Linked DNA regions of Homo sapiens: region 1 is linked to region 2. The links come from fine-mapping of genetic effects on gene expression. A gene starts in region 2. The other region holds a variant in brackets. All regions are shown on one strand. Distances are from middle to middle.

Region 1 (2,915 bases), 46 kb after region 2:
TTAATTCAATTGTGGTTTTAACTAGGCAGCTATGCATACATTTAGCGAAAAGCTGATTTCATTTAAAGAAACTTGCTGGAGATCACACATCTAAAAACAGGCAACTCCCCAAATTAAACCAATGCTCTTATTTCTTAAGATATCCTATGTTGAAGCATGTATTTACACCCCCACCTGTTTTCCTCATACTGTGTTAGAAAGACTTCTTAAAACAAATAGAACATATTTGGCATCTGTGGGCTAGCATATAAACTTAGAAAAAAAATCTCTTGACAGTTTCTAATATCCCTCTACTTTTTATCAACTTTCCACCCTAAATCAACATCAAAGGGTTTTATTATCTCTTATCAGGAAAGTGATTCCACAATATTCCTTGGAAACTATTTAAGTGTTACAGGAACCATTTGTTTTCTAGTCAAAGTGCATATGGAACAGCCAATCACATAAAGTATAGTGACTGAGAACCCAGTACTGATCTTGTGGAAGATATAATCTTATAAAAACATTAAATGTGAGTATAACTTAGCATTAAATCTTAATATCTAATTTTCCCTCAAAATCGTGATAATAATAGGGCTGGGTAATGTTATGACTGTTAGGACTTCTCCTCTTGGTCTGACACTACCACATCCAGAATTTGCGTTTAGTGAGAATGTGCTTTTATGCCTTCTCCATATGCAAATAGAGATTAGGTTGACAGAAACAGCTAAATTTAAAAAAAAATGTGTTCTCAAGGAGATATTTGACTTGTTTTGATGGTAAAGGAGTTACTTGGGATCTCATGTGTTGTGGGTTTCATCAAGGTGGGGTAGGACTGATTCTCAGGTTTGCCTAACTACATTGAGCATTAACACAGAAGGTAAAAAAGGTAACTACCAAAAGGCATTCCACCTGACAGAAACTAATTTAGTGCCACACCTGTACTAACATTCGAATTTTCCTCTTTATATTAAAAAAAATTTTCATCGACTCTTTCTTTCTCTTTCTTTCTTTCTTTCTCTTTTTCTTTCTTTCTTTCTCTCTCTTTCTTTCTCTCTCTCTCTCTCTTTCTTTTTTGAGACAGGGTTTCACTCTTGTTGCCCAGGCTAGAGTGCAATGGCGTGATCTTGGCTCACTGCAACCTCCGCCTCCTGAGTTCAAGCCATTCTCCCGCCTCAGTCTCTCGAGTAGCTGGGATTACAGGCATGCACCACCATACTTGGCTAATTTTGTATTTTTAGTAGAGATGGGGTTTCTCCATTTTGGTCAGGGTGGTCTCGAACTCCTGGCCTCAAGTGGTCCACCTGCCTTGGCCTCCCAAAGTGT[T/C]GGGATTACAAGCGTGAGCCACTGCGCCCGGCTTTGTCAACTATTTTCATGACACCATTTTGGAAAAAAAAGTTTAACATTGCCACTTATATTACTTGACTTGTTTATCTTTGTAATACTTGGCATTTACTCATATGTATATACCACTGTATATTTTATAAGCCTCTGCATAGCATATATGCTTCTGCTTCATACAAAATCACCATGTAAATAATATTTGACAATATTTCATATCTTAAATTTGGTGGAGAATGTCAGAAAAGTAAGCCTGTTGTTCAGTATTCCTAGCCTTCATATCAGCATCTCTCACCTGAGCAGAGCGTGGAGAAAAGAGAGCCTAGATGGCAGCCAACTGATGGTCTCCTGCAGGAGGCAGATGAGCAGCTTGAGCTGGCTGGCCATCAGGTTGACTCCATGCATCTGGCTTGGAATCCCTGATCTCTGAGCCGATGCAGGCTTTGGCAGACACTGTGCAAAGAGCATTCATACATGCTCATTTAATCCCCACAACAACCTCGTGAAGTGAATATCATCACCCCCATTTCACAGTCTACTAAGTAGTCCACTTCTAAATGAGACTGGCTTGACTCCAAAGCCCTAGTTTTTTTTTTTTTTTTTTTTGAGACGGAGTCTCGCTCTGTCGCCCAGGCCGGACTGCGGACTGCAGTGGCGCAATCTCGGCTCACTGCAAGCTCCGCTTCCCGGGTTCACGCCATTCTCCTGCCTCAGCCTCCCGAGTAGCTGAGACTACAGGCGCCCGCCACCGCGCCCGGCTAATTTTTTTGTATTTTTAGTAGAGACGGGGTTTCACCTTCTTAGCCAGGATGGTCTCGATCTCCTGACCTCATGATCCACCCGCCTCGGCCTCCCAAAGTGCTGGGATTACAGGCGTGAGCCACCGCGCCCGGCCCAAAGCCCTAGTTTTTAACAATTTTACTCTGCTCCCTCTTTCCTGGTAAACTCAAAGTGTCATCGAGCCTTGGCTTCCACTCTTGGCACGTAAGCTCTTATCATTGCACATTTTCTCTCCAGGCTCTGTTTTTGTAAACTTTTATTTAAAAATATTTCTTATATTGATTTTATTAAAAATTCCTTGGGAGAATAGAGGACCGTACATGGATGTCACAGAACGAGATAAGGACGAAAGCAACACATTTGATTAAACGTCACTGGATGACTTGATCTCTTCCCAGAGAGATATTATCCCTCTGCTTTCTCTCTTACCCAAAATCTTATTTGTTTACTTCTTTATCCATAGGGGCTATAGCTACCTTTCCTACATTTGATTTTAGCCAAAAGGCCGAGAAGCGATAGCTACCTTTCCTAATCCCTTCATCTTGTGTAGCAAAAGAGTTTAAAATAAAATTAGAGAAGAGGGATCACAAACCAAAAGCTCTATTCCAAAAACAAGTTCTGAGTATACGGGTAAAATTCAGTCTATACTAAGGTAATCTCAACAGTCAAGGTCAAAAATCTCTCTCACGATCTTCAGTGTGATGGATGGGCATTGTCAGCTTAGATTGTAAGTTTAATTTAAGGATAATTTCTTGCTTTGCCTTTGGCTGCTTCCTGATCAGCAACTCCAAATGCACGTGGAAAAAAAAATTAAC
Region 2 (2,915 bases):
TCTCTTAGTGATTCTTTACTCTGAATTTTTATTGTACTTTAACCAAATTTCTATTGCCACTTATTGTAATTGAAATAGGTTGCCTACTTGTCTGTCTCCAATGGACTAGGAACACCTCAAAGGGCATAATCTTATATTTATGTTTTTTACCAATGCTTGGCACTGAGAATAAACTGAAGCAATAATTATAGAATTAGTGGTCATATACAAGAAATATGCATTTACAAAAAAAAACACTTCACATACAGGAAGTTTGTGAGATGGCTATATTTGAAAGCATTTTAATTATAAGAAAACAGAACTGAAGCCAGACTCTTCAGAATTCCTCCAATTTATCATTCATTCATTTATTCATCAATGCTATATTTAGGTACCAAGCACTGGCTGAGTGTTGAAGACAGAATGAATGACAACATCCAGCTTTGGAGTCGATTAGGGACTAAAAAAGAAAGTGCATCTCACTTAGTGGTCCCACATTTCCCCTAGAGGGCAAAGCCTGACCTTGAGACCAGGTGGAATTGTAGGGGAACTTCAGATGGCAGGGACAAAGCCTCATTGGTCTTGTCAGGCAACGAGTAAGCAATCATTGCGTGTTTGTTGAAACAGGTTGAAAAAAATAGTCATTTTCATCAAATGAACTTTAAAACGGAGATGATCTAAATTCAGATGTATTTTTTTAAGTCCTTTAAAGTTTAACTGAAATGCAACATAGAAATTTATTTCTGGCCGGGCGCGGTGGCTCAGGCCTGTAATCCCAGCACTTTGGGAGGCCGAGGCGGGCGGATCACGAGGTCAGGAGATCGAGACCATCCTGGCTAACACGGTGAAACCCCCCTCTCTACTAAAAATACAAAAAATTAGCCGGGCGAGGTGGCGGGCGCCTGTAGTCCCAGCTACTCGGGAGGCTGAGGCAGGAGAATGTCGTGAGCCCGGGAGGCGGAGCTTGCAGTGAGCCGAGATCGCGCCACTGCACTCCAGCCTGGGCGACAGAGTGAGACTCCGTCTCAAAATAAAAAAAAGAAGGAAAGAAATTTATTTCTATTTGTACTAAATCTAATAGAACAAGAGCGTTAAAGTCCAGAAGAGTCGGGGATGGGCAAGTTTTATAAATAACTTGGCCTCCGCATTGAAGAGCCTGCGAGATGTGAGACCAGCTGAGAGCGGAAGCCTCTGGAAGGAGACCTCCTCATCTGGAGGGTGGGGGAGGGAGTGTGCATACTTGAGCCCTTGTCCTTGAAGGGGATTGAGCGAGCCGAGGGGAGGGGTAGGCGGTACTCGGATTTCCAATCACAATGGAGAAACCTAAGAGGCTGCGGTGGTTGTGGGGCCCCGCCCCCTCCTCCCTCCTTGCAGAGCCGGCGCCGGAGGAGACGCACGCAGCTGACTTTGTCTTCTCCGCACGACTGTTACAGAGGTCTCCAGAGCCTTCTCTCTCCTGGTAGGTTTCGGCTCAGGACCCTGAATCCTGGCCCACAGGCAAGCCTGATGGGACGTGCGGGGTAGTACTTGTATGGGGAGACGCGGGAAGGAGGAAGAAGCACATCTGTCCTCCGCGGCCTTTAGCTCTGAGCATCCGGCCGCGGGCCCTGACTTTGCCGCTCAGTTTGGGGCGCAGGGGGGGCCGTGCCCTGGCGGAGGAGCAGAAGGCAGAGGGTAGCAGCTGCGGCTCAGCGGAGAGACTTGTTGCATTTGCAGCTAAAACCAGGCCCTACTTGTCCTTGGTGGGTTCATGGCGGCCACATCACCCCCACGGCCTGCTGGCGGGAGTCGGGACACGTGCCCGAGTAGCTGGGGGAGGGGGACGGAACCAGGTGGCCTATGAAGGCTGGACGATCTTTACCTCGAATATTTGAATATATTGCCACGGTAATAGAGAAATGCCCTTGCACTCGCTGGGATGAGGAGAAAGGCACCTAGATGACCAGCACGTTTGGCGCTGCACTTATTTTTACCCGGCTCTGACGGTCTTTCCAGGAGCCATGCGCCAGTTCTTTCCTGCAGGGCCTCTTTTCTGGATGCTTAGGGGCTTCGTTTACTTTACCAGCCTTGGGTGCTCCGAGTAAGGAAGTCCTAGACTTGTCCCCACAGACCTTACTCGGGGAGATCTCTAGCTTCTGCATGCCCTCGTGATCTGCTGTTCTTTGCTGCCGGTGCCCTGAGGAAAAGATGGTTTGTGCGCACCGCGAGCAGTACAAGCTGCAGTAAGGGCCTGGGGAATGGGGGGAGGGGAGGAATTCAAAAGCAAAACCTGAATTTTTAAAAGATTACGGTGAGAAAGATTCTGCAAAGAAGATCTTTGTTCCTGAAATTAAGGCGCTCCTTTATTTCTAATGATTTATATCCACAGCAGTGAGGAGACATAAGGGACCAAGACTCAGAGATTTTTACCGTTTGTCGTTCTTGTTCCTTACAGCCTGCACTCTGATGTTGGCACAGGCCTGTATATCATGCAGACCATTTTCTTCTCATTTCTTAAAACTCTTTTTAAGGAAAAATTGAAGAAAAGCACTTTCTCCAGAAATATCTGAAAGAAAATCTGGTTCGAGCCTTTAAATTGTACTTCCTGAAGTTTTCTAAATTAAAAGGTCTATCAGAACAACGAATCTGTATTTATATAGCCACTGTTTCTTCATTTTCATTTTCCACTGCTTCCTGGGCCCCCTGTATACCAAAACGGTCGTAAACAGACCATCTAACAACAATAAACTTAAGTGCAGAACAACTATTCATGTGTGTCGTCCTTCAAAAAGAGATGCAGCATTCTTTCTTCTGAGCCTGTTTAAAATGCAGGCCATGTCTGAATTTATTTCATTTTAAGGTCATCTATTTGTGGAGGCACTTGCACAACATTGCATCTTCTCTCTTTAACGTCCACTAGGAAACTGTAAATGTGATCTGTAAAGGCGAAAGAATCT

The links. PIP is the estimated chance that this variant, and not a neighbour inherited with it, causes the effect.
Region 1: its variant is the best candidate, but not a certain one, in a credible set for the expression of LDHB in whole blood (TOPMed, PIP 0.52).

The regions. Positions count from the first base shown.
Region 1 is chr12:21,610,578-21,613,492 of GRCh38, reverse strand. No RefSeq gene overlaps it. Among named protein-coding and RNA genes, the nearest start is that of GYS2, 7.2 kb to the right of the region's middle. The variant T/C (reference allele first, on the strand shown) is at 1,306.
Region 2 is chr12:21,656,274-21,659,188 of GRCh38, reverse strand. LDHB (lactate dehydrogenase B) reads left to right here and starts at 1,347. Exons shown (of 8, transcript NM_002300.8): 1 at 1,347-1,438. RefSeq lists enhancers at 866-1,045, 920-1,448, 1,426-1,675, 1,706-1,795.